3 separate regions of the Homo sapiens genome follow, and regions 1 and 3 are each linked to region 2. The links come from fine-mapping of genetic effects on gene expression. A gene starts in region 2. Each other region holds a variant in brackets. All regions are shown on one strand. Distances are from middle to middle.

Region 1 (10,772 bases), 26 kb before region 2:
ATATCTAGGAGTGGAATTTCTGGGTCAAATGATAATTCTATGTTTAAACTTTTGAGAATGTGCCAGACTGTTTTCCAAAATGACTGCACTATCTTACATTACCATCAGCGGTGTATGAGGGTTGCAATTTCTCTATATCCTCACCAACACTTGTTCTTATTTGTCTTTTTTATTCTAGCCATCCTGTGAATGTGAAGTGGTATCTCATTGTGGTTTTGATCTGTATCTCTCTGATAGCCAATAATATTGAGCACCTTTCATTTGCTGATTGGCCATTTATACATCTTTTTTGGAGAAATATATGTTTAGATCGTATCGCCATTTTTAAAATTGAGTTATTTGTTTTTGTTCTGTTTCTGTTTTTGTTTTTGTTTTTTTGAGACAGAGTCTCACTCTGTTGCCCAGGCAGGAGTGCAGTGACACGATCTCGGCTCAGTGCAACCTCCACCTCCCAGGCTCAAGTGATCCTTCCACCTCAGCCTCTTGAGTAGTTGGGACTACAGGCACCAGGCACACACCACCACGCCTAATTTTTGTATTTTTTGTAGAGACGGGTTCTCTCCATGTTACCCAGGCTAGTCTCAAACTCCTGGACTCAAGCAATCCTCCTGCCTTGGCCTCCCAAAGTGCTGGGATTACAGGTGTGAGCCACTGTGCCCAACCAAAATTGGGTTATTTGTGTCTTTATTATTAAGTTGTTGGAAGTAGCATTTAGAGCCAGGTCTGGCCCTTGCTTTACTATCAAATGGTGGACACTGCACACACCCCCATGGCATATGCCCCACCGCCAGGGACATCTTGAAGCCCCCTGCAGACTTGGCCCTGCTCTGAGCAGGTGGAAGAGTAAGTCCTGCTGGGGCCTGGCCCACAAGTGTCCAGTGAATGTCTATGGATGGACAGACAGACAAGTATATCTCTAGGAACGAGTAAGCCAAAGGGGAAGAAAAAACACACAGACCAAGAAGTCCACACCCCAGGAGGAAGAAACTGCTGAGGCCCAGCTCCAGGAGGTAGAGATAACACTTTTGGCGCGGCGAGAGGCCACCAGGCAACTGCCTCTTGTGTCCTTGGTGGCAGTAATCTATCTGGCCTGTTTTTACGTGACTGACTATTGGCCTGTCTGAGGCTGGGAAGGAGAGGCCAGGGAGATTAGCAGGGAACCCATAAGCCTATCTGTCTAGGGGCTTGTAAGGGGGGCAGCTGGTCAGAGGCGGGCAGGGAACTGGTGGGGTGTGTCCCTGCCAGCCTCTGGCCCCAGAAACTCACTGCTTCATCACCAAGGGCGCCTGCATCTTGAACACCCAGCTCTGGATTCTGACTACCTGGGTTTGAATCCCAGCCCTACCATCTCCTTGCTGTGTAACCATGGACAAGTTACTCTCCATCTCTGAGCCTCAGTTCACTCACAGCCTCACCTGTAGAATGGAGACAACCAGAGTGAGAACGAAATGAGACCCTAAGGCTGTGTCTTGGTGGGGCCAGGCTGCCGGTGGGAGGCTACAGACAGTGGGCAGGAGGGCTCACCCACAGGGCATCCCCAGACCCTGTACTCAGAGCCTGTCCCCTTGTGAAATGGAGTCACAGACTCTCCTGAGACCAGCCGCCGCATGAAGGTGCACCTCGGCCCAGTGCTGTGAGAATGTGGCTGCTGGTGGAGGCAGCTCCAAGAACCTGTGTGGTAAAGACAGGCTGGGAGGGGGTGCCAGGGCAGCCTCTGACTCAGGCAGCCTGGGATCAGTGTCCTACTCTGTCTTTTACCAGCTGTGAACCTTGGGCAGGCACTTGGCCTCTCTGTGCCTCAGTTTATCCTTTGGAAGACAGAGATGACAGTCATGCTTACTTTATAGGGTGGCTGTGAAGATTAAATGGGTTAATAGAGGTAAAATGCCAGTTAAAATCTCAGCCTTAAAATAAAGCCCAGAGCATCTCCTGAATTCATTTAACTTCTTTGAACCCCAGATTCTCCCATATTCCCCCGGATTCATCCAGCTGGGCTGTGTGGAGGACGGGAAAGTGTTAGACTATTCTGGCATTTCCCAAAGTGGATCCCATGGACTTCTAACTCACGGGATGCTCTAGGAAAATAAAAAAGGGCACCATTGTCACATAGGCCTGGGTGCTAGTGTAGACCCAGCCGCTTCCTGGAACCACACACACACACACACACACACACACACACACACACACACACACACACGAAAGTTTCTGCGAAACCCTGCAGTGAAGAGCTCTGTGGATGTTTGCGTTGTTTCTCAAATTTATTTGACGATGAACACCCTTTTCTGCCCAAGGTCGATTTAACATCCTCCTAGAAAACAATGATGGTCAAGGTCATTTCTATCTTGCAGCTTCCGTGAATCACAGAAAAGATGGGAAGATTTGCTAAAAATCATCATCATCACCTAGGAGAAGTGCCTTTCTGTTTTTAAAACCCTTTCACACTCACCACCATGAAAGCATCATGGCCCTGTGGGGCACTCTCAGCCCTGCCACAGGGATCAGAGAGGGTCAGAGTGGGAAGGCCACACCAGGGATACCCCACGCCCACGACTGCCCAGCCAGGACTGGCCCAGGTCCCTTTCTACCCCGCACAGCTGCCTCTGGCTACCCCAAACCAGACAGAATACCCAGAAGGTTGTCAGGACAGAAGGTGGCGTCTGCGAGGAGCCTTCTAGAAAAAGGAGTTGTAGCCAGGCACCGTGGCTTACGCCTGTAATCCTAGCACTTTGGGAGGCCGAGGCGGGTGGATTGCCTGAGCTCAGGGGTTCAAGACCAGCCTGGGCAACACGGTGAAACCCTGTCTCTACTAAAATACAAAAAATAAGCCAGGTGTGGTGGCGTACACCTGTAGTCCCAGCTACTCGGGAGGCTGAGGCAGGAGAATTGCTTGAACCCTGGAGGAAAAGATTGCAGTGAGCTGAGATCGTACCACTGCACTCCAGCCTGGGCGACAGAGCGAGACTCCATCTCTAAAACCAAAACAAACCAAAACAAAACAAAACACAAAAGAAAAAGGAGTTGCCAAAAAGAAGCCCTATGGGTTGAGCCAGCCCAGCCTCAGGCAAGGGAGATGTCAAGGATCAGGAGTCCCCTGGGGGCACCTGCAGGGGAGGCCCTGTGACCCTGAGCCTAATTAATTGGGAAAGTGCCCCATTCAAGTAGCCCCTCACATCTCCCTGTAAACATCTCAGCAAATCTAACATCCAGCAACCAGATTACATCTCCCAGAGAGTGGCCTCTTGAACACAGGACAAGGGCCAAAATTCTTCCCTAGGCCCTGCGAGGTT[T/TG]GGAAAATGAGCTTGATCAGCTAGTCAAGGGAGGAGACTGACATTTATTGAGCACCAGTGATGTGTCATGCATCGTGTACCTGTATGGTGAGATCTCAATTCTGATAATAATCCCTCTTCACAGATGGGGGAAACTGAGGCTCTCGGTGGTAAATTAACATGTCCAGGGATGCAGCAGGGCTAGGATTCAAGCTCCAAGATTGGGTTTGGCTCGCCAGCCCCAGTGCCACCACACGCCCCAAACCCTGTGCCACACCTCGCTCTCCAGGCCCCCTTCCCATTCCTAAGCCAGGTTCTCAGGGCCTCAGATATAAGAGGAATTGGTTGGGGGGCTAATGTGATCTGGCCCCTAACAGCCTGGCCCACACTGTGGATGGAGAAACTGGCACTTGGGTTTGTCGCTCGATGTCCTGGAGAATCGAGCTCTTTCAGCCCCTAGTACTCTGATCATCTGTTCAGGGAAGACAGGTAGAGAAATCCATTTTCTGGGTATGCTAAGCCAAAGGCCATGCCTAAGTCTTTGAATGCTGTGATCATTCCCAGCTGCCCTCAGGTGCAGCCTCCTGCCTGGCATCCCGCCCGGCTCACTGACCTTCCAGAATCCTGGCACTCAGGCTGGGGGTGTATGGAGGGGAGGGGGGCCCATCATACAAACCTCTCTGCAAAACCCCTATTCCTCTCCTTGATGACCCTGCCCCCCTGGGGGGATATTCTCCCAAACTGGGACTTCCCAGAATTTCTGGGTCAGCAAACAGACTGGCTGAGTGGCTGCAGGCCACTCCTCTCCTGCGAGACCTCTCCCCTGCACTGCTGCACGTCCTCCTGCCCAGCGCAGAAGCAGACATTGGAGAGGAGAGAGAGCCAGCACCAAGCCCTCCCAGCTTTCCCACCACACTGCCCATCTTCAAGCCCTCCGAGCTTTTCCACCATACCACCCATCTTCAGGCTGTCTGAGAGGCAGGCTTTCTTTCCTTCATCCCTGGCAGCAGATCCAGGTCACAGAGGGGCAGCTACTTGCCCAAGGCCACACAGTGAGGCAGCAGTGGGCATCACACCTGGGTCTGACTCACTCCAGAGTTGGGGACCTTTTTCCCAGTCCAGTACAGTGGCCAGCAGTGTTGAGGATGGAGAAGTGTTAGACTATTAGTGTGAGATCTGGAGCCTGGGCTCCCCAGCTTCCTCACTGGGTCACTTGGGGTAGACACCTCAACTTCTCTGTACCCCAGTTTCTCCATCTACACAGTGCTATCAGAGAGTCCCTGGCTTCAAATTCTGTGTAAGTTGTGTGGCCTTGGGTGAGTCACTTAACCTGTCTGTGTCTCTGCTTTCTCCAATTTAAAACAGAGTGGGCCTTAAGGTAAGGGTCAGTATGAGGATTTTTTTTTTGAGACAGAGTCTTGCTTGATCCCAATTTTTTTTTTTTTTTTTTTTTTGAGACAAAGTCTCGCTCGATCTTTTTGTTGAGACAGAGTCTCGCTCGATTTTTTGAGACAGAGTCTGGCTCAATCTCAGCTCACTGCAACCTCTGCCTCCTGGGTTCAAGCGATTCTCCCACCTCAACCTCCCGAGTAGCTGGGATTACAGGCACATGACACCACGCCTTGTTAATTTTTGTATTTTTAGTAGAGATGGGGTTTCACCATGTTGCCCAGGCTGGTCTCGAACTCCTGGCCTCAAGTGATCCACCCGCCTTGGCCTCCCAAAGTGCTGGGATTACAGGCATGAGCTACCACGTCTGGCCTAGTATGAGGATTAAACTGTGTGTCAAGGGCTTCCTAGCAGGTGGTGTCTAGAAGGCCCACACTGATGGCCTGCTGTTGTGGTCAAGATGGGGCTGTCTAGGCTGACTCCAGAAGGAAACACAAGGAATAGGCCCCAGAGGTCATCTCCGGGGAGGGAAACAGTTGGGGAAAGGGTGGGAGCCCTAACTTGTCCCTATAGGTTGTCTGCCACCTTCAGAATTGTGTATTGCAGTCACGCATTATTACTGTTACCACAGCTGATTACATGATGACTGCACAGAGCTGCTCCCCTGGCCTGACACATGCACTCATGCTAGCCAGAGGCCCCATGCATGCCTTGGGTGCCCAGGCCAGCTCCTACCACTTGCTTGGCTCATCCCTCCACAGCTACACCCATGCCTCACCCAGGCCCTTTTCAACTACCCCATGTCTCCCAGCAAGACCATGGCACAGCCTTGAGGGCCAGGAGGGTCTCTCCATCTAGCACACACTGGTCACTCACCACATGACACTTGATGTGAGTCTCTGTCCTCCATTGTCTCACTCATAAGTGGAGAGGCTCATGCCTCCCCCAGGGTAACTATAAGGATTAAAATAAAGAACTAGGGCCGGGCGCAGTGGCTCACACCTGTAATCCCAGCACTTTGGGAGGCCAAGCTGGATGGATCACCTGAGGTCAGGAGTTTGAGACCCGTCTGGCCAACATGGTGAAACCCCATCTCTACTAAAAATACAAAAATTAGCCAGGCGTGGTGACGTGTGCCTATAATCCCATCTACTGGGGAGGCTGTGGCAGGAGAACTGCTTGAACCTGGGAGGCGGAGGTTGCAGTGAGCCGAGATCCTGCCATTGCACTCCAGCCTGGGAGACAAGAGTGAAACTCCGTCTCAAAAAAAAAAAAAAAAGAAGAACTAGGGTTTGGCTTGGTGGCTCATGCCTGTAATCCCAGCACTTTGGGAGGCTAAGGTGGGAGGATCACTTGAGGCCAGGAGTTCCAAACCAGCCTGGGCAACATAGTAAGACCCTGTTGCTACAATATATTAAAAAAATTAGCTGGGTATTTTAGCACACGCCTGTAGTCCCGACTACTCAGGAGGCTGAGGTGAGAGGATTGCTTGAGCCCAGGAGATTGAGGCTGTAGTGAGTCAAGATTATGCCACTGCACTCCAGCCTGGGTGACAGAGCAAGACCCTATGTCTAAAAAAGTAAAATGGAGAACTAATGTGTGGAAAGCGCCAGATACAGTTCCCCACCCGGAGTTGAAAGGGTGAAACTACCACGGGTCGGGGAATTGCTCAGGGTCAGGTGCATAGCCTGGAGTGCAGGAGTGTTGGTCCCAGCTCCTTCCCCAGCCTCACCACCCACGGCAGGGGGCGTCGCCTTCCCCCACCCTTCCAGGCTCAGAGGGTGTCAGGTCCCTCATAGTATCTCCCCAATCCATTGATGGCACCTACAGCACCCTAGGCAAGCTAACCCCTACCCACTTCTCTCACCCTCTGTGCCCTCTGAGGAGCAGGCTTTCTTCCTCCATCCCTGGCAGCAGATCCAGGTAACAGAGATCTGCTACTTGGGCTACTTGCCCAAGGCCACACAGTGAGGCAGCAGTGGGTATCACACCCGGGTCTAGCTGACTCCAGAGTTGGGGTCCTTTCTCCCAGTCCAGTGCAGTGGCCAGGGGTGTGGGATCTGGAGCCCAGGCTCCCCAGCTTCCTCAAACAGCCTAAGCCCATCCTGCCTCCAGGCCTTTGCACTCCCCATTCCCTCCTCCTTCCCTGCCCTTCCCATCATTCAGGTTCTGCTCAGCTTTGCCTCCCTCAGAGGCTCTCCTGGACCACCCCTCCCGAAATGCCCCAATCCCTATTCTCTCTGTCTCTTGCCCCTGATTGTTTGCTTCATGGCACTAACCATTGCCTGAAACTGTCTTTTTTTTTTTTTTTTTTTTTTTTTTTTTTGAGACAGAGTCTCGCTCTGTCGCCCAGGCTGGAGTACAGTAGTGTGACGGTGGCTCACTGCAAGCTCCGCCTCCCAGGTTCACGCCATTCTTCTGCCTCAGCCTCCCGAGTAGCTGGGACTACAGGCGCCTGCTGCCAAATCTGGCTAATTTTTTTTTTTTGTGTGTGTGTTTTTAGTAGAGACAGGGTTTCACCATGTTAGCCAGGATGGTCTTGATCTCCTGACCTCGTGATCCGCCTGCCTCGGCCTCTCAAAGCGCTGGGATTACAGGTGTGAGCCACTGCGCTGGGCCAATAAACTTTCTTTAGGGAATAACTTAGAAATTATTTTGCAACAGAAAAATTGCACAGATAGTACAGGGAGTTCCTATTGGCCCTTCACCAAGTTTTTTCTTATGTCAACCTATTACCTAACCATGGTAAGTGGTCAAAACCAAGAAAGTGACATTGGTACATTACACTGATGAGCCGCAGGCTTTACTCCGGTGAAACTGTGTTCTTCCTTACTCATTTGTTCTCAGCTGCCTCCCCCATGAGGAGGCAAACTCTGAAAAGCAGGGAGGTTGCCTCTCCCACTGACATCAATTTCCTCATACCTGGCAAGGAGTGCTGATTGGATAAAGGAGAGGAAAGAATGGCAAAAACAGCCAATGACTATCAAGGACTCCTGCCAGACAGTGTTCCTAAGTGCTTTAAACACTGTAAGCCCCAGCCTGGGCAACATAGTGAGACCCTATCTCTACAAAAAATTTAAAATTAGCCAGGTATGGGGGCATGTGCCTATAGTCCCACCTACCAGGGAGGCTGAGATGGGAGGATCGCTTGAGCCTGAGAGGTGGAGCCTGCTGTGAGCTGTGATTGCACCACTGCACTCCAGCCTGAGCAGCAGAGTGAGACCTTGTCTCAAAAAACAAAACAAAGCCAAACAAAACCAGACCCAACACATAGTAAGCTGTTTAATCCTCACATCAGCCCATGAAGCAGCTATGAATCATAGGGGAACTAAGGCATGGTACGGTTTGGTGGCTGGCCCAAGGCCACAGAGATGGGCAGTACCAGAGTGGGTGGGTTCTAGCACACTCCTCCTGCCCCTGTCACAACACGCTGATGGCACCACAGGGTAACACAGCAAATGCCAGTCCCTCCATGTTCTCAGTCTACGAAACAGTGGAAGGGTCACACCTCCCACAGCCCAGCAGGAGCACAGGCTTGGGATGGAGCCTGAGCCTCTGCTTCTTGCTTCTGCCCACAGTGACTAGTGGCTATCCCGGCCCTGCACAGAATGACACAGGGGCTCTGTTCCGAGGGCCCTCAGCCTCACCCTTCTTCAGGGAAACAGAAGGGGGCTGGTTCGGCCCCGGACCATGGGCTCCCGCCAGTGCTCCCAATTCCCCAGACCCTGCCGACACAAAGCAGGCCTCAGCCCGCCCCGCTCCCTTGGCCCACAGCTTGGACTGGGCCTCTAGGATCTGGCTGCTGAGGGCCGGGTGCAGAGCATGGGCCCCTGTCCTGAGGTCCAGCATTCTCAGAGGAGCTTTCTGGGCTCTGGAAGAGAGAGGAAGAGGAAGACATGGTGTCCCTTTCCGGATGTGGGGTGGGAGTGACACACAGGAGTACTGCAGCCTCCTCCCAGCACTCAGGGACCAAGCCAGAGAGATGTGCCAGCGCCTCCCAAGGGAGAAGCCATTCTCCAGCAGCTGGACAGGACCAGAGCCTGCCCCGCATGTCCGGCCGGGGTTCTACCCAGAGCCAGCCTGGCACAGCCTCGGTCCCTAATCATGTTTGCTGAATGCCTTGAATACAAGCGCCGGTGCCCAGAATCTCCTTGAGGTTTCAGCTGGGCGTGCCGGGCCCATCCCCCACTCTGGGGAGCAGAATGATTGTGGGGGGTGGTAACAGGGGACACCCTGAGGTGGTGGTGGCCTTGGTAGGACAGGCAGGCAGAGCTGGGGGTGGGGGCGCCCTGGGCTCGGCTAATTAAACAGCGACCGTGATGAATTGGAGAGAAACTGCTGCTTGCTAATTAAAGGTGCAGGCAACTTGCCTGGCAAGGATGGGAGGCAGAAGTCCTGGAAACATGTTGAGGTCCAGGCCAGCGAGGACAGAGCTTGGCCAAAGTCCCCCACCGTGCCCATTCTGGGCATCCCTCCCATTGCCCTCCCCCGCCCAGCAGGGGCCCGCAGCCCCCTCCCCACTTCCCTATCTCTCCGACCCACCTTGCTGAGCCTGAGGCCTCCAACTTCCCCCCACCCCTCCCCACCAACCCAAATCCTTTCCTGATAAGGGCCTGGGTGTTGCGGAGGAGGAGGCTGGCGCTGGTGGCTGGGCTGGGGGTGGACTCGCTGAGCCTTTGAGGTCCTCCTTCCCGCCCCACCGCCAAGGTCCCAGAGGTGGGCAGTGAGTCCAGCCAAGACTGATGTGGCCTGTTGGGAACAAGGCCCCCAAGAAGATCATAGAATCTTAGTACCTGAGACTCGCAAGGGGCTTTAGGTCTTCCCTAATTTCCCAACAGTCCCCAGTGTCAGCCCAGGTGTGGGAGACAGGGACAGCACTTCTTACCCGGCTCAGCATTCCAGTTTTTGTAAAGGGAAAACTGGCCAGGCGAGGTGGCCACTGCCTGTGATCCAGCATGTTGGGAGGCTGAGGCAGGAGAATCGCTTGAGCCCGGGAGTTCAAGACAGGCCTAGGAAACATAGGAGACCCTCTCTCTAAAAAAAAAAAAAAAAAAAAAAAAATTAGCTGGGTGTGTTGGCTTGCGCCTGAGGGTTCAGCTACTCATGGGGTAGCTACTCAAGTGGGAGGATCACTTCAGCCCAGAAGGTTGAGGCCGTAGTGAGCCATGATCGCCCCACTACACTCCAAAGTGGGCAACAGAGCGAAACCCTATTCAAAAAAAAAAAGGAAAAGAAACGAGAAAATTGGAGCAAATGATCTCTGAGCCTTGAAGATTCTTACAGGGTGGACAAGAAAACCCCCTGAAGCTGCTCATCCCTGCCCCAAGTCACTTCAAAGCAGGGCTGTAGGCTCAGACACCTTTACCAACCAACGTGACCTCAGGCAAGGGAGCTCATTGTCACATGCCTGGGTTTCCCCATTTGCAAGGCTGGGGATGGCAACAGAGCCCACCTCAAAGGGTCTCTGAGAAGACTGGAGGAGATAACAAAGGTGAAGTGTCCAGCACAGCAACTGGTCTGACCTGAATAGCCAGCCACTGCCATCTGAAAGGTCTGGGGAACTGGGGGGTGACCTGGCACCTAGCCTGTCCGAGTCTTACCTCTTCATGTGGCAGCTGCAGTCTGGCACTCTGAGGAGGAGGATTAGAGAGCTTAAGTGACTTCTGCAAAGCCACACCACTACGGAAGAGGAAGAGGCAGCCTTGGATCCCTTGAGTGAGGAGAGGATGGGACCTGGATTCCTATGTTGACATTTGTTGAGCATCTACTGGATGCAGGGTCCTGAACAAGACCCCAGGAAGGGACTAAGATGAATCTGAGATTCACTCTGCCTTTAAGGGGACCCCAGTCTGGAAGGAGAGAGAAAACACACATACAAATAACTAGAATGCAAAGCAAATGTGGCTGGATGCAGTGGCTCACACCTGTCACTTTGGGAGGCTTAGGCAGGAGGATCACTTGAGATCAGGAGTTCGAGACCAGCCTGGCCAACACAACAAAACCTCGTCTCTACTAAAAATACAAAAATTAGCTGGGTGTGGTGGTGCACGCCTGTAGTACCAACTACTTGGGAGACTGAGGCACGAGAATCACTTGAACCTGGTGGGGCAGAGGTTA
Region 2 (10,772 bases):
TTATAGGCATGAGCCACGGCGCCAGGCCTAGAAATCTTCTAGCCACTCAGTATCATACAGTGATTAGGTGGTCTCTGGGGCTAGCCCGCCTGGAGTGAATCCCTGCTGCCCCTCTAACTAGCTGTGTGACCTTGCACAAAATACTTAATTCTTCTGGACTTCCATGTCTTCATCCGGACACCAGAGCATTAATCATCTGTATCTCTTGGGATGACTGGGAGGGGTAAATGGGTCTGTAAGAGTGGTTACACCAAGGGCACTCCTGTTATCTATTATTGTTGATGTTGCCACTGTTATTAACCTACAAGAACATTGAGCCCCAGGGATAGGAAGGGACCTATCCAATGTTACACAGCAAACCTGAAGCACAGCAGGAAGCAGAATCTAAATTTTTAACTTCTGAGGTGGGGCACGGTGGCTCACATCTGTAATCTCAGCATTTTGGGAGGCCGAGGCGGGTGGATCATTTGAGGTCAGGAGTTTGAGACCTGCCTGGCCAACATGGTGAAACCCCATCTCTACTAAAAATACAAAAATTAGCTGGGCGTGGTGGCGGGTGCCTGCAGTCCCAGCTACTCGGGAGGGTGAGGCAGGAGAATCGCTTGAACCCGGGAGGTGGAGGTTGCAGTGAGCCGAGATTGAGCCACTGCACTCCAGCCTAGGTGACAGAGTGAGACTCTGTCTCAAAAAAAAATAAATAAAAAAATAAAAATAAATTAAAAAAATAGCTGGGTGTGGTGGTGCATGCCTGTAATGCCTGTAATCCCAGCTACTAGGGAGGCTGAGGTAGGAGAATTGCTTGAACTCGGGAGGTTGCAGTGAGCCAAGATCGCCCCACTGTAGTCCAGCCTGGGTGACAGAGTAAGGCTCCGTCTCTAAATAAATAAATAAATGAATAAATGTTTAATTCTGGCTCTTACTCAGAGCTGCCTCTCAACTGAATTTGCTGGTTGTCCCTTCATCCAGACATTGACCATGTTCTTGCCATGTGCTGGTGCCACGTCCACAGCTTGGGGGAGACACTAAGATGGTACAAGACTCATCTCTACAAAATCGAAGTTTTCCAGTTCAGAAGGAAAAGCTCTTTCTCAAACACTCTTGGCCACAGCGGGAGGAAGCCTTAGTGCATGCAGAGAGTCGTGTGCTGGTAACGGGGCAATTAAAACAGTACTGGTTGAAGAACCAGGAGATCCTGGGGTGCCCCAGCCTCTGCCCAACTTGCTCTGTGATGCAGGCAAGGGGCTTGGCCTCTCTGGGACTCAGTGCCCTTGTGTGTGCTGAACTTGTGTTAACTGGGGGCGGACTCTAGGCCCAGACCCTGACTCCAAAGTATGCACAGCCGATTCCCAGGCAGGCTGGGAGGTGTAGCTAGAACTATAGGCATATGCCTCCGAGGACACAGATCCTATGGCCCGAATTTTCCTGGAACACTTCTGGCTGACCTGCTCCCTTCGTAAGAGCCATGTGTGTACTTGATCACACATCCTGGGTTTTAAAATATAATTTGTCACTATAATAAAGTCATGAGAGTCTAGTTCATCCATTTCACAGACCAGTAACATTTCCAAAGAAACTCTGGGGAACCTGCAAAGGACTGAAAGTTGTTATTCTGCCAAGGAAGGCCCTTAGAACCAAACGACAAATGGTGCTGGAAAAACTGGATATCCACATGCGAAAGAATGAAACTGGACCCTTTCCTTACACAACACAAAAATCAACTCAAAATGGATCGAAGACTTAAGACCTGAAACTATAAAACTTACAGAAGAAAATATAGGGGAAAAGTTTCATAGCACTGGCCTTAGTAATAATTTCTTGAATATGGCACCAAAAGCACAGGCAAGAAAAGCAAAAATAGACAAGAGGGACTACATCAACCTAAAAAGCTTCTGCCCAGCAAAGGAAACAAGAGTGAAAGGCAATCTACTGAATGGGAGAAAATATTTGCAAACCATATATGTAATAAGAAGTTAATATCCGGCCGGGCACAGTTGCTTACGCCTGTAATCCCAGCATTTTGGGAGGCTGAGGAGGGTGGATTCACGAGGTCAGGAGATCGAGACCAGCCTGGCCAATGTGCTGAAACCTCGTCTCTACTAAAAAATACAAAACTTAGCTGGGCATGGTGGCGTGTGCCTGTAATCCCATAATCCCAGCTACTCAGGAGGCTGAGGCAGGAGAATCGCTTGAACCCGGGAGTCGGAGGTTGCAATGAGCCGAGATTGAGCCACTGCACTCCAGCCTGGGTAACAACAGTGAAACTGCGTTTCAAAAAATAAATAGGCCGGGCTCGGTGGCTCACGCCTGTAATCCCAGCACTTTGGGAGCCTGAGGCGGGCGGATCACCTGAGGTTGGGAGTTCAAGACCAGCTTGGCCAACATGGTGAAACCTTGTCTCTACTAAATAATACAAAAATTAGCCAGGTGTGGTGGCAGGCACCTGTAATCTCAGCTACCTGGGAGGCTGAGGCAGGGAGAATTGCTTGAACCTGGGAGGTGGAGGTTGCAGTGAGCCGAGATCACGCCACTGCACTCCAGCCTGGGTGACAGAGAAAGACTCCGTCTCAAAAAAAATAAAAATAAATAAAAAATAAACAAATAAATAAAAATAGGCCACGCACAGTGGTTCACACCTGTAATCCCAGCACTTTGGGAAGCCGAGGTGGGCGGATCACGAGGTCAGGAGTTTAAGACCAGCCTGGTCAACATAGTGAAACCCTCTCTCTACTAAAAATATGAAAATTAGCTGAGTGTAGTGGTGGGCACCTGTAATCCCAGCTACTCAGGAGGCTGAGGCAGGAGAATCATTTGAACCCAGGAGGCAGAGGTTGCAGTGAGCCAAGATCTCACCATTGCATTCCAGCCTGGGCGAGACTCCGTCTCAAAAAATAAAAATAAAATAAAAATAAAAATAAAAAATAGGCAAAGGACTTGAATAGGCATCCCTCCAAAGATGACATGCAAGTGGTCAACAAGAACATGAAAAAGTGCTCAACCTCACTGATCACCAGAGAAATGCAAATCAAAACCACAATGAGCCATCAACTTACACCTGTTAGAACTGCCATTATTTAAAAAAAAAAAAAAAACAACAGTGTTGGCAAGGATGTGGAGAAGTTGAACCCTTGTGCATGGTTAGTGGGAATGTTAAATGGTGCAGCTGCTACAGAAAACAGTATGGAGGTTTCTCAAAAAATTAAAAATAGAACTACCATATGATCCAGGAATCCCACTTGCAGGTATTTTTCCAAAAGAATTGAAATCAGGATCTCCAAGAGATATGTGAACTCCCATATTGATTGCATCATTATTCACAATAGCCAAGAGGTAGAAACAACCTAAATGTCCATCCACAGATGAATGGATAAACAACATATGGTGTGTACACACATTGGAATATTATTTAGCCATCAAAATAAAGAAAGCCTGTCATGTGCTGCCATATGGATGAACTTTGATGACTTTATGCTAAATGAAACAAACCAGTCACAGAAGGACAAATAATGCATGATTCCATTTATATGAGGAATCCAAAGAAGAAACAGAAAGTAGAAGAAAGAAAAAAAATAAAGACAAAAAAATTTTAAGTAGAAAAAAGAAAGGGAAAAAATAGTAGAATGGGCCAGGCACAGTGGCTCACGCCTATAATCCCAGCACTTTGGGAGGCCGAGGTGGGCAAATCACCTCAGGTCAGTTTGAGACCAGCCCGACCAACATGGAGAAACCCTGTCTCTACTAAAAATACAAAATTAGCCGGGCGTGGTGGCGCACACCTATAATCCCAGCTACTCGGGAGGCTGAGGCAGGAGAATTGCTTGAACCCAGGAGTTGGAGGTTAAGGTGAGCCGAGATCGTGCCATTGCACTCCAGCCTGGGCAACAAGAGTGAAACTCTGTCTCCAAAAAAAAAAAAAAAAAAAAAAAATAGTAGAATGGGGGTTGGGTTGCCAGGGGCTGAGGGGGAGTGGGGAACAGAGAGTTGCTGTTCAATGGGTATAGAGTTTCAGTCACACAGATAAAAATGTCCGGAGGTCTTCTGCACAACATTGTGGTTATAGTTAACAATACTGTAGCGTGCACTTAAAAATTTAAGAGGAGCCGGGGCAGTGGCTCACGCCTGTAATCCCAGCACTCCGGGAGGCCAAGGCAGGCGGATCACAAGGTCAGGAGTTCGAGACCAGCCTGACCAACACAGTGAAACCCCATCTCTACTAATAATACAAAAAATTAGCTGGGCATGGTGGTGGGCGCCCAGTAGCTATTACAGTAGCTAGCTGTAATCCTAGCTACTTGGGAGGCTGAGGCAGGAGAATCGCTTGAACCCAGGAGATGGAGGTTGCAGTGAGCCGAGATCCCACCACTGCACACCAGCCCAGGTGACAATGCAAGACTCTGTCTCAAAAAAATAAAATAAAATAAAATAAATACACACACATAAAATATATTACATATATATTATACATACATACATACATACATATGTATTAGCTGGGTGTGGTGGCGCATGCCTGTAGTCCTAGCTACTCAAGAGGCTGAGGCAGGAGGACTGCTTGAGCCTAGAAGGTCAAGGTTACAATGAGCTATGATTGCATCATTACACTTCAGTCTGGGTGACAGAGCAAGACAATATCTCCAAAAAAAAAAAAATACTTCTTCAATTTAAATAGCTTTAGTTTTGTGGGAAAAACCAAGAACCACAGTGTGCCTGTCTCTATTTCTTGCTCTTGTTCCCTTTTATTCCCTCCTGAATTTCTCACCACACCAGGCCTTTTTGTTCTGGGACTCTTCCTCCTCTACCCTCCCCACTCCCTCCCCTGCCTCCCCCAAGCTCACAGCATTTCACACAGTTCCAGAAAAGTGCTTCTCTCCCTGACTGCCACCTGGCCCTGCTGTCTTCCCACAGGGCTGTGGGCTCCGGCAGCAGAGACCTTTTCCTACTCCCTGTGCCCCTGCATCTAAACAGACCCAGCATAGGAGAGGGGCCTGGTGAAGATGGCTGGTAGGAAGGCACTAGACTCGGGCTTTGAGAGCCAGAAGGCCTCAGGGAGTGAAGAATATGGGACTGGCAGGATCTAGGGGCTGAAATGAGTGGCCATAAAAGAAGCCCCCTCAAGACCCAAGACTCCTTGGTAGTAAGGGCTGGGCATCTCTCTGTGTCCCACCTCACACCCTGGGGCGGGTGAGGAGAGGAAGTGGAGGGGTTGCAGGGTTGGGGGAACAAGCGACAAGCCCGCCCTCCTGAGGAGCCCCAGGGCTGGTACAAACGGCAGGAAGAGGCTGAGCTGGGCCCCTGGAGCCACAGAGGCAGGAGGGAGTGAAGAGGCCCTGTGGCTGCCATGGGGGACAGTCCAGCAGCCTCCTCCTGCTCCCCTCAAGACTGGCCGGAGGTGTCTCAGCCCCCGTAGCCAACCACAGAGAGAGCACAGGGCGGAAGTGGCTGGCGCCTCAGCCATAGCTGCCGGAGATGGGCTCAACGGCCACACGGTCCCCACATTCGGGGAGCCTCACCGCAGCCCCGTGGGCACAGAGACCCAGGTGGAGCTCCAAGGGACACATGAGGCACAGGGAGTCTAGGGCAGCAGCTTCAAAACCACACACTGGTCTTTCTGCTGGCTTTTTTGGTCACCATCCCCTGCTTAAAACCCCAGGGTCACCCCACACTTTCAGCACAGACAGGCTGCATTCCACCCACCTGCAGGCTCCTCTGCCCGGCATTCATCTGTGCCACCTGCCCCGGCCATTTGGCTCCGACTGCAATGACACGTTTGTCTGGGAGATTCTTCAAGGGCACATAAAACATATCTGCCTTTGCTCACTGTGATGTCTCCGACGCAAAGCAGAGAGCCCGCCAGCGTAGCCACTCAGAGCTGAGTGGTGGTGGAATGAGTGAAAAGGCTGCAGCTGGAAGGGCTGGGAGGCGGGGGGCAGAGTGGGGGCAGCCAAGGGTTTTGGGGATCACACAGGCTTGGGAAGAAAAGTCAGCTCAGACCCACTGGCTATGTGACCTGGCCCTGCAGGTCCAACTGTCAATGGGTCTAACCCCGCCCACCTCAATGATCTGTGAGAGCTGAGCGGGGGAGACACTGTTCAGAAAAGACTGGGTCCCTGAAACTGTTGTTGTCGTTTAATCCAGCCATTTTTTTTAAGTTTGTTTAAGAGACAGGGGTCTCCCTATATTTCCCAGGCTAGTCTTGAACTCCTGAGCTCAAGCAATCCTCCCACCCTGGCCTCCCAAAGTGCTGGGATTACAGGCGTGAGCCACCGTGAGCTTGGCCCCAGCTCTTTCATTTATGGACAGGACATTTCAGGAGAGGGATCCATCCAGTCTCATCTTGGTGTTTAATATTTAAATGCACCAAAAATGGGGTGCCAATTGGTGCCAACTTTTTGGAAAGAGACTTTGATGTAATCTGCCTAAAAGTAAAATGCTCATGTTCAGCAACTCAGCCCTTCAGCTTCTAGGAATTTTGTTCTGCAGGGAAAAAAAAATGCTGTATTTGTATTATTAATATTGTTACTGGGTGGCAGGGGGAGGAAAGTATTCAGTGTTTTCAGAACCACCCACCAGGAGGCGCTTTTGCATCAGGGGCCCAATCAGGTTAGCCCAGAGCACCTGGATTTAAGTAGCAAAAACAAATGACAATCTCTAGCCCAATGTCTCAAGAACATTCCAGTCTTTTACTTCATCTCACCCTCGAAACTTCCTTTTTTTTTTTTTAGACAGAGTCTCACTCTGTCACCACGGCTGGAGTGCAGTGGTGCAATCACAGCTCACTGCAGCGTCGACCTCCCAGACTCAAGCAATCCTCCCACCTCAGCTTCCTAGGTAGCTGGGACTAGGTGCACATCACCATGCCTAGCTAATTTTTGTATTATTATTTTTTTTTTTGTAGAGATAGGGATCTTGCCATTTTGCCTAGGCTGGTCTTGAACTCCTGGGCTCAAGCAATCCTCCTGCCTCGGGCCTCCCAGTTCTGGGATTACAGGAGTGAGCCACTGCGCCTGGCCATGACCAAAACTTTTATTAGAGACAGTATCTACTTGCTTGGTGCCCTCTCTGCCCTTCCTCCTAAAGAATCCCCCTTCAAAAGGAAAAAAAGGCCATTCAAATTTGAGAGAGACTCAGGGGTCCAGAGTAAACTAAGTTAAATGAAATCAAACCTGGACCGTGGGCTTCAAGTGTGTTATTAACCCCCTCCCTCCTGTCCTGCTGCATCCTTGGCTCTGCCCTTTCACTTACGTCCACGTCTCTAAACCCAGCCGTTCTTCCTTCTCCCTTGGGTCTCTGTGTCTTCTGTCTGCCTCAGGTGTCCTTCCACACGCTACCCACCCGCCTAGGGAATACTCCTTCTGAGTTCCTGGGCAAACCACCCAGTTCTCCTCCTGAACCCTCCCCCAAAAGGCTCCCTGCACGTTCCATCTCATGAGGGCCAGGCTGTGCCCAGGTGAGGACACTCATCACCTCCACTTTTCCCATCACACTGGTGTGTGGAGCGCCCACCCCACCTGGGATGTAGAGGGATGCTCCTTGCCCAGCAGTGCTTCTCCCTGGGCCTCAGTTTCCCAGTCTAGGGTACCCCCACACCTCTCTCAGCTTGGGCGTGCTGTACTTTACCCCATGTCAGCAGTTCTCATTAAGCTAGTCTTTAAAGGAGGAAAAAATAATTTTAAAAAATCTTCCTTTGTTCTGGCCTCCGGTCTATTTACAATGACAGTTCATGAGGAACTGGGTTCTGAGCGAAAACAAACAAAATGCCTCCATTTTAGAAGGGGTAAGGTCTGGAGGGGAAAGAGGGAGATAGGAAAGAACCTGTGGTGGCCTATCCTCTCCCCGTGACAGGAAGGCCTTTGAACAACACAATTCTGATTGTGCTGTTGCTACCTCATTTCAAATCCTTCCCCCTGCCCCACCCTCCAGAAGCAGCACCTGGCATGGTAGGCAAAGCCCCATCAGCTCTGGCCTGCACGACTGGCGCTCCAGCTTTGGCTGTCCTCCCGCAGCCCTGGGATCCCTAAGCCTAGAATACGCCACGCCCATTCCCCCACCTTCCCCACCAGCCGAATTCCCCTTCCGCTGGGGAGACTCAGGTTGGGGGTCAATCTTCAAGAAGCCTCCCTGTCCAACCCACTGAGGCAGGTGGCCTCAGGGTCAGGGCTCCAGGTTTCCCCCACGCCCACCCCACTAACACACACACACACACACACACACACACACACACACAGCCACCTGGGAATTCCAGGGAGCACAGCTGCGAGGGCAGCAAGGACCACAACAATGCTGACCACAATAGTGGCTCCAGGAAGGCCTGTTCTTGTTCCGGGCGGGAGGCCTAAGGCAGTGATGCTCCCTGGCAGCCTCTGGAAGCCCAGGGGAAGCCAGTTTCTATGTGGGATTCCCTGACTCTGGCCCATGGGCTTAGGAACACATTGTGTCCCTCCACTCCCAGGGCACTGAGTCCCAGCTGTGGGGTCATCTGAGTCCCACAGCACACCTGCTCATTTGTTCATTCATTAGTTTATTCATTCATTCAACAAATATTTATTCAGTGCCAGGCTTTGGGCCAAGAAGAGAAAGCCACTAAAAAGAGCAACAGATAAATACACGGTTGCACGTGATGTCAAGTGTCATAAGGCATGATGGGGTGTGAGAGGATGCAGAGCCAGGTGGCCAGGGAAGGCCTCCTAGAGATGATGCTTGAGCTGAGATGTGACAAATGAGGAGGTGTTAGCCTGGGAGGCCACTGGAGGCCGGAGCAGCAGAGGGAGTGCAGGCATGGAGCGGCTGGCCAGACACGAGGCAAGAGGAGAAACAGAGGCTGGATCATGCAGGACTGTATGATAGGTGGGGAAACCGAGGCATGGAAACTGGTGACTTGCACATGGCCCTGCAACTAGTTAGATGCTCGCTTCCTAAGTGCCACCCACCCCAGGAACCAGGCCTTCCCATCTGAGCATGGGATGCCTGCACTGCTCTTCTTCGCAGTGGAACAAAGGAACCCGTTTTTTTTGTTGGTTTTGAGACGAAGTTTCGCTCTTGTCGCCCAGACTGGAGTGCAATGGCATAATCTTGGCTGACTGCAACTTCCGCCTCCTGGGTTCAAGCGATTTTCCTACCTCAGCCTCCTGAGTAGCTGGGATTTACAGGTGCCCACCACCATGCCCAGCTAATTTTTTGTATTTTTAGTAGAGACGGGGTTTCACCATGTTGGCCAGGCTGGTCTCGAACTCCTGACCTCAAGTGATCCACCTGCCTCGGCCTCCCAAAGTGCTTGGATTAGAGGCATAAGCCACCGCGCCCGGCCTCAAATGGTTCTTAATCACCTAGTGTCTGTCATGTGTCCACCCGGGGTTACCCAGGGCAGAGACGGCATCATCTCCATCTCAGAGGCCCAGGGCCGGGTGTATTGTAGGTGTTTAATAAACACTTGCTTAATTGGATCTTGGTATCTCCAGGATGTAGGCCCCGATGCTGCCCTTGACCACATGGCTCCCTGAGTGTTAACTGAACCAGCAGAGTTGGTCTTGCAGCACGTGCATCTCATTCAGGCCCACTGCATTTTCTGGCCCTCACTGCTAAGAGTCCGTGCAGAAATGTGAGTTCTCAGCAGTGCTGAGAGCACTGTGTGCCCCCAAAGAGCTCTGACTCTCAGCTCCCCACATTGGTTTCACCTCTAATTTGTACCCCTCTAGCTCAAACCTTAATGGCGAAAGCTTGACATCGCCTTTGGCAATTCAGAGGCTATTACTTGTCAGCACTATCTACCTTGTCAGTGCCTGGGAGAAGCAAACCCCACCTCATAAGCATGTATCAAGCAATCACTTATCAAGCACCTCCTAGGTTCGGGATCTTTTAGAAAGCCCCACTTGGGGAGGTGCGATGGGGAATGGCTCTGGGCCTCCCCATAGGCCAGTTTATCAGCTCTCACAGAGGAGCACAAACCACTGGCTCAGGACGTGCAGGTGCGAAGGAAAGAGGAAGGGCGTGGTTGGCAGCCCCTCTTTCCCTGGGCAGTCTGAGTCACATTCCACCTCTCCCAGTGTTACAGGGTTTGTGAAATGACCACAGCTCCTCACTCTTCTGAGGAGAAACCAGAGGTAGAGGAGAAAGCACAGAGTAGTGCAGAGGGAGGAGCCCTGCCTCCCCTCCACACCCTTCTAAGACTGTTAACATGTCCTTCCAGCAATGTCAGCCAGTGTCAGCTGTGGGGTGCATCAGAATTCTGGAAGCCCAGAAGTCCAGGAATTTGCCATCCAGACGGTGAGACATATGCATAGAGAAGTGCAGCACAGGCTGGGTGCAGTGGCTCACACCTGTAATCCCAGCACTTTGGGAGGCCGAGGTGGGAGGATCACTTGAGCCCAGGAGTTCAAGGCCAGCCTGAGCAACAGTCTCAATAGTGACTGTCTCTATTTAAAAAAAAAGAAAAAAGAAAGAAAGAAAGAAAGAGAGAAGTGGCTGGGCGCGGTGGCTCATGCCTGTAATCCCAGCACTTTGGGAGGCTGAGGCAGGCAGATTACCTGAGGTCAGGAGTTCAAGACCAACCTGGCCAACACAGTGAAACCCCATCTCTACTAAAAATACAAAAATTAGCAGGGCGTGGTGGCACGTGCCTGTAATCCCAGCTACTCAGGAGGCTGAGGCATGAGAATTGCTTGAACCTGGGAGGCAGAGGTTGCGGTGAGCCGAGATGGCGCCATTGTACTCCAGCCTGGGCAAAAAGAGTGAAACTCGGTCTCAAAAACAATAAATAGAAGTGGCCGGGCATGGTGGCT
Region 3 (10,772 bases), 39 kb before region 2:
GCCAGGCAGGGAGGCACAGCCATTGCAGAGGTGAGGAAACTGAGGCTCAGAGAAGTGAGGCTCAGAGATCTGCCCAGGCATGGAAAGGGGAGGGACCATGACTAAGCACCCACTAAGTTACAGGGGCCTTTGCAAACATCACCTGGGGCTGCAGCTAGAAGGCGGAGAGTAGAACTTGAAGTCAGGAGTAGAACTTGAACTTCCGACTGATTCCCTGGTCCTGGGCTCCCCTGTCCTCCTGAGACAGAGGCTAATAGGAGCCAAGACGGGGCCATTCCTTTTAGCACCATGTTTTCTGAGAATATAAGCTGGAGAGGGTGGGGCAGGAGGTCTGAGACAAACAAAACTGCACTTTGGAATTATCCAGTCTGACTGCAACCACCTCTATCTTACAGATGGGGAAACTGAGGCTCTGGCCTGGCCCAGGCCCAAAGAACCCACTGTTTCCCAGATCTTGGAGTAGCTGAGACTGGGTAAGTAAGTCCCACTGATCCCAGAGCTCTTTTTGGATCCAGCTGTCCACACAGCATCTGGGGTTTTAATTGGGTATTTTGGGGAAGGATTCTGAATGCAAATTTGGAAGAGAGCTCTGGGCCAGCCCTGCAGCTAATGTCAGCCATGGGAACTCACAGGCCACTGGGTTAGAGTGATGTGGATCAGGTGTGATGCAGAGGAGCATGTGAGAACCAGCACCAGCCACTGGTAGGACTCGCATTAGTGCAAGTGACCACAATGGTGGGTGCCAGGCACCATAAGGGAGAAGATGGTGGTGGGGCCTTCAAAGAGTGCCTGGAGCGTGGCGAAGCTTCCGGGCGGCGTGGCGAGGCTTCCGGACGTCGCACTACGACTGTTATTGTCCTTGTCCCTCTGCACCAGATCTCCATCCTGGCTGTTTTTCACAGCGTCCCCAGAAAGACTCTGTGAGGGAAGGTCTATTATTATCTCCATTTTCAGGTCGGGGGGCATTTAGATGGGAGAGAAATTTGGGGACTGGGGGAGTTCTTCCCCTTCTCCCTGAAATTGCCCCAGGCCGGGGACCCTGTCTCCCACCCACCAACAGGGCAAGCCAAGATGGTTGAAAAGTTCTCCTTGGCCCAGCTTTAAAAGCCAACCCAACAGAGTGATTGGAAGTCCAAGAGTAAGGAGAGCTTAGTTTGGACTTCCCAGAAGGCAAGTTTTTATATAATACCGATCACAAATTTGGTACCCGTCCTCTTCAGTAGTGCCAGGGGTTCAGCTGGGTACCTATCTTGGAGAAACTGCTGGAGTGCACAGTGAGGCCTGTTCAGGGCTGTGTGTGGGAGTGAAATAATGGAAATGTCCATTTATAGGCCAGAGGGCAAATAAAGGATGGACCAGCTCACACACAGAACACTGCACAGCACGGAGGAGGAGGCAGGTCTGTATGCACTGACTCAGAAATGTCCATGACACGTTGTTCAGTGAAAAAGAAGGCATTGGCCGGGCGCGGTGGCTCACGCCTGTAATCCCAGCACTTTGGGAGGCCGAGACGGGCAGATCACTTGAGCCCAGGAGTTTGAGGCCAGCCTGGACAACACGGTGAGACCCCCCATCTCTACAAAAAAAAAAAAATACAAAAATTAGCCAGGCCTGGTGGTGTGTGCCTGTAGTCCCAGCTACCTGGAGGCTGTGGTAAAAAGATTACTTGGGCCTGGGAAAGCAAGGGTGCAGTGAGCCGAGATCACACCACTGCACTCCAGCCTGGGGAACAGAGTGAGACCCTGTTTGAAAAAAAGAAAAGAGGAAAGGAAGGAAGGAAGGGAGGAAGGAAGGGAGGAAGGGAGGGAGGGGAAAAAAAAATAGCCCGGGTGCGGTGGCTCACACCTGTAATCCCAGCACTTTGGGAGGCCAAGGCAGAAGGATCATTTGAGCTCAGGAGTTCATGACCAGCCTGGCCAACATGGTGAAACCCCGCCTCTACTAAAAATACAAAAATTAGCTGGGTGTGGTGGTGTGCACCTGTAATCCCAGCGACTTGGGAGGCTGAGGCATGAGAATCGCTTGAACCTGGGAGGCAGGGGTTGCAGTGAGCCAAGATTGAGCCACTGCACTCCAGCCTGGGCAACAGAATGAGTCTCTATCTAAAAAAAAAAAAAAAAAAAAAAAAAGAAAAAAAGAAAAAGAAAAAGAAAGCATCTTGCAGAACAAAACATACAGAATGTTACTACTCACGTGAGACGCATACCTAAACACAATATGCACATCTAAACAGATATAAATATAGATAGTCTAGGTATAGGTGTTGGTACAGGCACGACACAGGCATAGGTAGTGGCATAGGTATAGTTACAGATATTGGTATAGGTATTGGTATAGGCATGGCATAGGTATAGGTATATACACTGACCAGCTGACAACAATGGTTTAAACAGAATGGGGCTCAGGAGGTAAAGAGGAATTACATGGCCTTTTATTCACTACATTTTATTAATGTTTGAGATTTTACAATGAGAATATTTTCCTGAAATATTCGTCTGATGCTAAAAATTAAAGAAGAAAAGCAGCTGGCCACATGGCTGGGAGCCTGAAGCAGGGCTCAGTCTGGGCGCTCATAAGAGGCAGGGTCTGTGGGGGTCAGGCCTGTTTGGTAGTCTCAAGCTACATCTGGAGACTCTTCCTAAATCCACTGTGGCTCCCTCTCCCCAAGGCCAGAGCCAGAGAGAGCTGGTTTCCACAGCAGCAGTAGCATACGCAGGTCCCTGCAATCTGGAGGTATGTGACACCGGGACATTTACCCTGTGCGGTGGGCCCACCTCTGCCACCTCTGCTCCTTGAGGCAGGGCAGGACTTCAGAATTGGCCAGAGGGCGACCTGAGACATGCAGGCAGAGAAGGGAGCCAGTGACCTCTAGGACCCCCAGGGCTTAGGCAGGATGCCGCGTGGAACCCAGAGCAGTCTCCCCAGCCTGGGCTTGCATTTGAGCCTCACAAATACCGCACTGGGGGAGGCAACAGCCCGTCTGTGCCCCTGCACTCCCAGCAGTCAGCAAGGTCAGGAGTGGGAGAGGGGAGAAGGCCTTTCATGGAGCACTCCTTAGATGCTGGGCCCTGAGCTAGACACATTTCCTACTCCCTAACTTTGGCCTTTAAATCTCGTTCAGTGAGTTCTTTTTGACACATGGAAGCTTGGGAAGTTTTTCGGCCAGCTACTGAAAACAAAGGGGTAAAATAATTCAAACAAAGCAAAGGGATGTACAGTGAAAAACAAGTCTTTTCTCCTCAGCCCCCAGTCCCCGCCCGGGAGAACCCATGTGCGCACTGGAGCACATGCACGTGTGTTCCTGCCCCCTCCTTGGTACTAACAGAAGCGCTCCCCACAAAGTGCGCTGTATCTGGCCTTTTTCACAAAAAAAACATGTATCTCAGAGCTTCTTCCACAGCAGTACACGGGACCGCCTCGTTCTTTTTCATGCCTAGAATTCCATGGCATGCAAAAGTCTTTAGTATTCATGTAACCAGATCTAGAATTCTGGCTCCATGGTTTTCTGCCTTTTCCATAGGCTTATTTCTGTTCTGCACAACAGCCCTGGGAGGCAGGTGGTCCCTGTGTTAGAGATGAGGAAACCAGGGTGACGGGATTAGTCTGTTCTCACGCTGCTGTGAAGAAATGCCCGAGACTGGGGTAATTTATAAAGAAAAGAGGTTTAATTGACTCACAGTTCTGCGTGGCTGGGGAGGCCTCAGGAAACTTACAATCATGGTGGAAGGCAGCTCTTCACAGGGCGGCAGGAGGGAGAGTGATACTGAGCAAAGGGGGAAGCTGCTTATAAAACCATCAGATCTCGTGAGAACTCACTCACTATCATGAGAACAGCATGGGGGAAACTGCCACCATTATTCAATTATCTCTACTTGGTCCTGCTCTTGACACCTAGGGATTATTAAAATTCAAGGTGAGATTTGGTGGGGACACAGAGTCAAACTATATCAGTGACTCACCATCCCAGTTTGCCTGGGACTGTGCCAGGAAAACCCTCAGTTTTGGACAAACCAGGATGGTTGGTCACCCTAAAGGTAAACTGAGGCTTGGAGGGTAAGGACATTCTCCAAGATCTTGTGGTTGATCCGTGGAGGCCTGGGATGGCCACTGAAGTCCACCTGATGGTGATGATACTCTAGGAGGACAATGATCATATAGTAAGTGTCTCCTCTGTGCCTGCCCCTTCTTCAGCCCTCATAACAGCCCCAGGAGGCAGACAACGAGGCACAGATAGAACTTGTGACAGGCGAACTGGGGTCAGATCTCAGCAGCAGGGCTTGGCTGTGTGACCACTGTGGTCAGCTCCTTCTCAGCCTCCTGTCCTGGGCCCACAGCAGACATACAACAAATGTTTGTTGAGGGGAAAAAAAGGCATGAATGAAGTATTATTATCCTCATTTTATGGGAAAAACTGAGGCACAAAGAAGCTGTCCCTGGCACAGGGTCACAATTTGAACCTGGACAGGGGCTCCAGAGCCCATGACACGTTTCCCTCTTGTAGAAGGTCCTTGTCTGTAACCTGGTGGTGCCTCCTGCCTCTGACTCCTCCGGCCAGTCGCCCTGACAGCCCCCTCACCGCGTTGCACTACCTGGTCCCCTGGTCCCAGCCTCCTTTCATGGAAGGAGGTCTTGCCGTCTGCCTCCCTACTCCTGACTTGGGGCCCCTGCTCTGAACCTTCCACCCCGTCCGCCTGGACTGGATGCTTCTCCCGGATCCTGATGCCTGAGCTTCAGCTTCCCCACTCCGGACTGTTTCATGCGTTCATTCATGTGTCCAACTCTTCACTCCTTTCCTCAACAAACATTGACTGAAATTGAAATGAGCCAGTTCTACCCCGGTGTTGGGAATTCCGAGATGAATCCAGCCTGAGCTTTGTCCTTGGGGGACACAGAAAACAACAAAGAAATGGCACTTGTTACCCAGAGACCCAGAGAGATGCAGCTCTGATGGAGATGGCGCAGGCACGGGCTGCTGGGGCTTGAGTTCAGGGGTTGGGGGGAGGTTCCTAGCCTGGGGGCTCTGGAAAAGCTTCCTGGAGAAGGTTATGCTGGAGTCTGGAAAGATAAGAAAGAATTAGCAAGACAGGCATTGGGAGGGGAGGCGAGAGGTACTGTGACATCATGGACAAAGCGGTGGAAGACAGCGTGAGACATTCAAGAAGTGCACGTTGTTCCTTACAGCTGGGTCCAAGCTGTCCTCAGGTGTGGACGCGTGGCTCTAGGAAGCCCAGCACCCTCCCGAGTACCTAGCCAGCTCCGGGCCCAGCAGGGCTTCCGAGAATTTCATGTCCAGAAATTTATCAGAAAAAAACACAACAAAACAATCAGCAATGTGGACATGAAGTTACGCAGGACGGAGGATGTTTACTGCGGTGTTTTTATCACAGAAAACGAGTGAAACAGCCTCTGTGCCCAGCCACGAGAAGGGGCCACACTTGTCAAAGGGCCACCACCGGCTGGAGTCATCCAAAAGGCTGAGGAGTCAGATTTCAGAGACTACTTAAAGGCACCAGACAATGCATCTGATGTAACTGTAGGTAAAAGACAGCAAGAGGCAAACTATTTTTTATTAGGAGACCTACATATGCATATATATATATATATGAAATGATATTAGGAAGAAATGTGTCAAATGCTTCACAGTGGTTATCTCTGGTGATGGACTAACCTGGGGGTTGTAGTTCCTTTTTAAAAATAATTTCAGCCAGACGCGGTCTCTCACACATGTAATCCCAACACTTTGGGAGGCCAAGGTGGGCGGATCACTTGAGGCCAGGAATTTGAGACCAGCCTGGCCCATGTGGCAAAACTCTGTCTCTACCAAAAATACAAAAATTAGCCGGGCATGGTGGTGCATGCCTGTAATCCCAGCTACTCAGGAGGCTGAGGCAGGAGAATCACCTGGGAGGCGGAGGTTGCAGTGAGACAAGATTGTGCCACTGCACTCCAGTCTGGGGAATAGAGTGAGACCGTGTCTCAAAATAAATAAATAAATAAAAATGGGCCAGACACGGTGGCTCATGCCTGTAATCCCAACACTTTGGGAGGCCGAGGCAGGCAGATCATGAGGTCAGGAGTTCAAGAGCAGCCCGACTAACATGGTGAAACCCCATCTCTACTAAAAAATACAAAAATTAGCCAGGCATGGTGGCACATGCCTGTAATCCCAGCTACTCGGGAGGCTGAGGCAGAATTGCTTGAACCCGGGAGATGGAGGTTGCAGAAGGCCAAGATCGCACCACTGCACTCCAGCCTGAGTGACAGAGTGAGATTCCATCTCAGAAAGAAAAATAAATAAATAATAATAATCATTTCCTCGGCTGGGCACCATGGCTCATGCCTGTAACCCCAGCACTTTGGGAGGCTGAGGTGGGGGGATTGCTTGAGCCCAGGAGTTCAAGACCAGCCTGGACATGAGGATACCTTGTCTCTACAAAATACAAAAATTAGCTGGGCATGGTGGTGTGTGCCTGTAGTCCCAGCTACTCGGGAGGCTGAGGTGGGAGGATCGCTTGCCTAGGTGACAGAGCAAGACCCTGTCTAAAATAAACATTCCTGTGTTCTCTGATTTTGTAATGGTGGGCCAGTCTCACATTTTCATTTTCAGAGACAGATTCTAGGAGGCAACTCCATGAGGCCACAACTTCTCTTTCCAGCATCCTCCTGAGCCATGCCTCCCAGCCCAGCAAAAACCCCCAGGGAGCCACCCGGAATGACGTGTCGTCCTCCCATCCCGTGTACAGTGAGCCCACGTGCTCTGACTCCTGCCGTTCCTGTCTGAATGCCCTCTGCTTTCTCTCTCCATCTGGCACAGTTCCCCCAGCCCCCAGGCCCCCCTCAGGGTCCTTCCACTGGGGAGGTCATGCACACCGAGCACCCTTGCCACTGAACAACGGGTGTGCATGCCCAGATACTTGCCTGGATGGTGAGCTGCTGGGGGAAGGACCTGCCTTACCTCTTTCTTCCCCAGGGGCTTTATAGGGCCCAGGATTTATTTCTATTTGTTTCCCGCCTCCAATATCTTATTTCGAAAATGTCCAAACCAAAGATAATGGTATAATGAACACCCTTCGCTTAGATTTGCCACAATTTGCTTTTTCTCTCTCTCTTTGTCTTGCTGAACTAGTGCAGACATCTGAACACTTGGCCAGGGCTGGGGATTTGGAAGGTGCTTAACGCCTGCTGGAATCAACGAAAGGGAGAGCAAGGACACGGCGCTGCTCCCCTCTGCCTTTGGCCCCAGTGGATAACCTTGCACAGCAAAGCGCTGGCCTTTCTAAAATGCTAACACAGAGGAGCTGCCCACCTACTTGGAGGCTGGCTGCCAACAGTCAGCACAGCCCCTCTGCAGACACGCAAGGCCCCTGTCATCCCTTCCTGCCTCATCGCTCACTGAGCCCTGGAAGACAGCCTCGTCCTCACACCCACCTGCGCCCCCCATGTGCTGCTGGACTTGGGCCATGGAACCTCTGTCCTCCCCGCTCACCCAGGGAGGGCATATATCTCTTCCATGTCCCTTGCAAACCTGACATCCTCAGAGAAGTGGAGGACTTCCCTGATATTTCCTCTGCCCCTTGGCACCAAGGGCAGCCTCTGTTGGAGTGACCCATTCATCCTGGTCTGCCCAGGACTGCCCAGTTTTAGCAATGAAAGTCCAGTGTCCTGGAACCCCTCAGGCCTGGGCAAACCAAGAGGACTGGTCACCCTGGCTTCTGTTGACTCTCACTGGGTGGGCAGGACATGTTCACACTCCCACTGCCGGGAGACAGCAGCCTGAGAGTCACCAGGGGCAGGGGCTGGGCTGCTCTCTACCTCCCCAACCCTGCCAAGGCCAGGCCACAGAAGAGGCCCAAGGACAGGCTTGCTGACGCTGGCTCACTGCCTAGAGGAAAGAAGAAATGAACCAGCACAGGGCTGGGTGCAATGGCTCACGCCTGTAATCCCAGCACTTTAGGAGAAGGGCAAGGCAAGTGGATCTCCTGAGGTCAGGAGCTTGAGACCAGCCTGACCAACATGGTGAAACCCCATCTCTACTAAAAATACAAAAATTA[G/C]CTGGGCGTGGTGGCAGGCGCCTATAGTCTCAGTTACTGGGGAGGCTGAGGCAGGAGAACCGCTTGAACCCAGGAAGAGGAGGTTGCAGGGAGCCAAGATCACGCCACTGCTGCACTCCAACCTGGGTGATAGAGCAAGACTGTCTCAAAATAAAAAGAAAGAAAGAAAGAAAAAGAAACGAATGAGTAGACAACGAAACAGTAATCTTGCCTCCTTCAAATCTGCTCAGATGTCACCTCCTCCATGAGGCCTTCCCTGACTGCCATCTCAGATGATAGCCTCCCCACTCCCCACCCCCACTTTACAGGCTTCCCTAGCATGTATCACTGACTGACATTCTCCATGTCATTTGTTCACTTTCACTAGGGTCCGTCTCTTGGACTACAGTGTCAGCTCCACATGGGCAGGGGTTTTTATCTGTTTTGATCACTGAGGTATTTCTGATGCTTAGAATAATAGGTGTTCAGTAAGAATTCATTGAATGAATGAATCCTTGCTTTCCTGCAAAAGATGGAGCCTCCTGGCCTTCTCACACATTTGGTCTTTTGTTTAATTTGTTCAACAGACATCAGTGCCCTCTGCGTCACTGTGTGTGCATGCATGCATGTGTGTGGGTGTAGGTGTGTGTGCATGTGCCTGTGTGTGTGCCTGTGTTTGTGTGTGTGCAGGTGCATGTATGGGCGTGTGTGTGCGCCCATGTGTCTGTGCGTGTGTGTGCATTGTGTACTTGTTGTTTGCATGTGTGCTTGTGTGTGTGTGTGTGTGTATACAAAGCAGAGTGCCCAATCTGATGGCAGGAGGGGCAGAGGCCAGGGTGAGGACTCAAAGAGCCATCATGCCTGGTTGTATGTGAAGCCAAGGACCTGGCATTTGGGGGTGGGTTCTCTGGGGCAGGACCCTGAGCTCTTTGCAACAGCCTTAAAAGAAAGCCTGGACTGTAATAACCATGGCCAACATATATTGAACACTTGCTATGTCCCAAGCACTGTTCTGTGTGCTTCATGTATGTTTTCTCAGTTAATTCTCAAATCTCTGACATGTAATTGTCCCCATTTTGCAGATGAGGCTGGGGAGCCTAAGTGACTTGCTCAGGGGACCACAGCAAGAAAGTGGGGGTCACAGTCAGACTCTGGAGGGTGCTGCTAACCCTGGTGCTGGAGACTCCATTTGCAGAAGAGGAAGGAGGATCAGTGAGGTGAAGTCACTTGCCCAGGGTCACAGAGGTGGTCTGCTGAGATTTACAGCAGGTCCAGGACACCAGAGGAGTCTGAGGTCCCACTTGGTGGCCACCCTGGAAGAGGTGAGGGTAACCAAAGGGAAGAGGACAGAGACCCAGAGCCAGGCAGGAGCTGTGCTTGAATGCAAAACAGCTGCACAAAACTGGAGGACAGGAGGGACCGGGTCTGACTGGGGAGATGGAGGCCAACTTCTCAGCAAAGCTGTCCTTGCTTCCTCTTCTCTCCTGAAAAATGGCCACAGAAGCCGTGGACCACCTGTCTCCAGGCCTCCACATGGGCTGGCTGCCATGCACTGGCCCTGGAGAGAAGCAGAAAGGGGGGGCGGGCAGCATCCCCTGTCCCAGGCCCCTCCTCCTGCGCTCCCGGCAATGTCGGCCTGACTCACCTGGTGATACCAAGTGTATATTCTGTGTCAGGAGCTGCGGTGTGCAACTCAAGATGCTCTGACTTACTTAATTCTTACACCCAACAAGTTCCAACAGGGAAACAGAGTTCAGGCAGCGAGGTAGCTGCCCAAGCCACCAGCAGAGGGAGGGTACAAGCCCCAACTATCTGGCTCCAGAGCCTGTGCCTCTAGCCCCTACCCAGGATGCAGAGCCCTGGCTCCCCTGGCTGGCCTGGCTCTCCGCCACGAGCCTGTGTAGTCCCTGACAGCAGACACCACCCACAGTGTTCCACAGTCCAGCAAAGGGCTCAGCACACAGCAGGCTCAGCTGAAAACAATCCTTGCTCTTTGAGATATGGGAACAGTGACTTCTTCCTTTGGATGTTTCTCCCTCTACCCAAGTCTGGGAAACAGTAACAGTCTCAGTTGGACAGTACCAACACCTTTCAAAGCTGCCCCTCCTTGGAAGGCCAAGAAGTGGGCAGAACATGGGCTTCCAACCAGGCCAACCTGGAAACGAACCCCAGTTCCACCCTGCAAATCACTGCACCTCCCTGAGCCTCAGTTTCCTCATCTGTAATATGGGGTTCATAAGTGTCATTATGAGGAGCATGGTGGTGTTGGCCTGTAGTCCCAGCTACTCAAGAGGTGAGGGCTGGAGGATCGCTTGAGCACAGGAGTTTGAGGCCAGCCTGGGCAACATAGCAAGACCCTGTAACAATATTTTTTTAAATAGTAAAAAAAAAAAAAAAAAAGTCACCGTGAGGATTAAAGGAGACAACAAGAGCTGGTGCCAGGCACACAGTGGGTGTGCTCAGGGAGGGTGTATCTGTCCACCGAGCACCATGGCCACCTCCAGGCTCTCCCAAGGCCACCTTGGCCACTGCCCCCCTACTTTGAAACTATGGCTATGTAAATCATGATATGTTTGAAGCATACAGAACACACAGAAATGAGCTGTGCCCGGTCAGAGCACTCCACTCTGGCACACACGTAATCATAACAGGCCCTTGGATTCCTGAGTGTTTTCCAAGGGTTGGGGTCTGTACCATGTGCCGTTCGTGGGCGGCCTGCTTCCTTTCATTCTCACGACTTCC

Which allele goes with the higher level. Positions count from the first base shown, and alleles are read on the strand shown. Sizes are in standard deviations (SD) of each study's normalised expression. Not every link is listed here.
As copies of TG replace T in region 1, the expression in prefrontal cortex of the gene that starts at base 6,001 in region 2 goes up (moderate effect, 0.44 SD a copy in CommonMind).

Evidence for each region. PIP is the estimated chance that this variant, and not a neighbour inherited with it, causes the effect.
Region 1: its variant is the best candidate, but not a certain one, in a credible set for the expression of C20orf203 in prefrontal cortex (CommonMind, PIP 0.60).
Region 3: its variant is the best candidate, but not a certain one, in a credible set for the expression of C20orf203 in whole blood (TOPMed, PIP 0.81).

What each region holds. Positions count from the first base shown.
Region 1 is chr20:32,641,478-32,652,249 of GRCh38, forward strand. It overlaps C20orf203 (chromosome 20 open reading frame 203), which reads right to left. Exons shown (of 6, transcript NM_182584.4): 2 at 10,256-10,504; 3 at 9,541-9,689; 4 at 7,778-9,404. The coding sequence starts at 9,675. The coding sequence ends at 8,955. Among named protein-coding and RNA genes, the nearest start is that of C20orf203, 27 kb to the right of the region's middle. RefSeq lists enhancers at 6,181-6,681, 6,682-7,182. The variant T/TG (reference allele first, on the strand shown) is at 3,288.
Region 2 is chr20:32,667,941-32,678,712 of GRCh38, forward strand. It overlaps C20orf203 (chromosome 20 open reading frame 203), which reads right to left and starts at 6,001. Exons shown (of 6, transcript NM_182584.4): 1 at 5,692-6,001. RefSeq lists enhancers at 4,249-4,748, 6,699-6,768, 7,620-8,322, 10,682-10,772.
Region 3 is chr20:32,629,216-32,639,987 of GRCh38, forward strand. C20orf203 (chromosome 20 open reading frame 203) reads right to left here. Exons shown (of 6, transcript NM_182584.4): 6 at 2,410-5,055. Among named protein-coding and RNA genes, the nearest start is that of C20orf203, 39 kb to the right of the region's middle. RefSeq lists a silencer at 9,305-9,492 and an enhancer at 9,746-10,245. The variant G/C (reference allele first, on the strand shown) is at 8,052.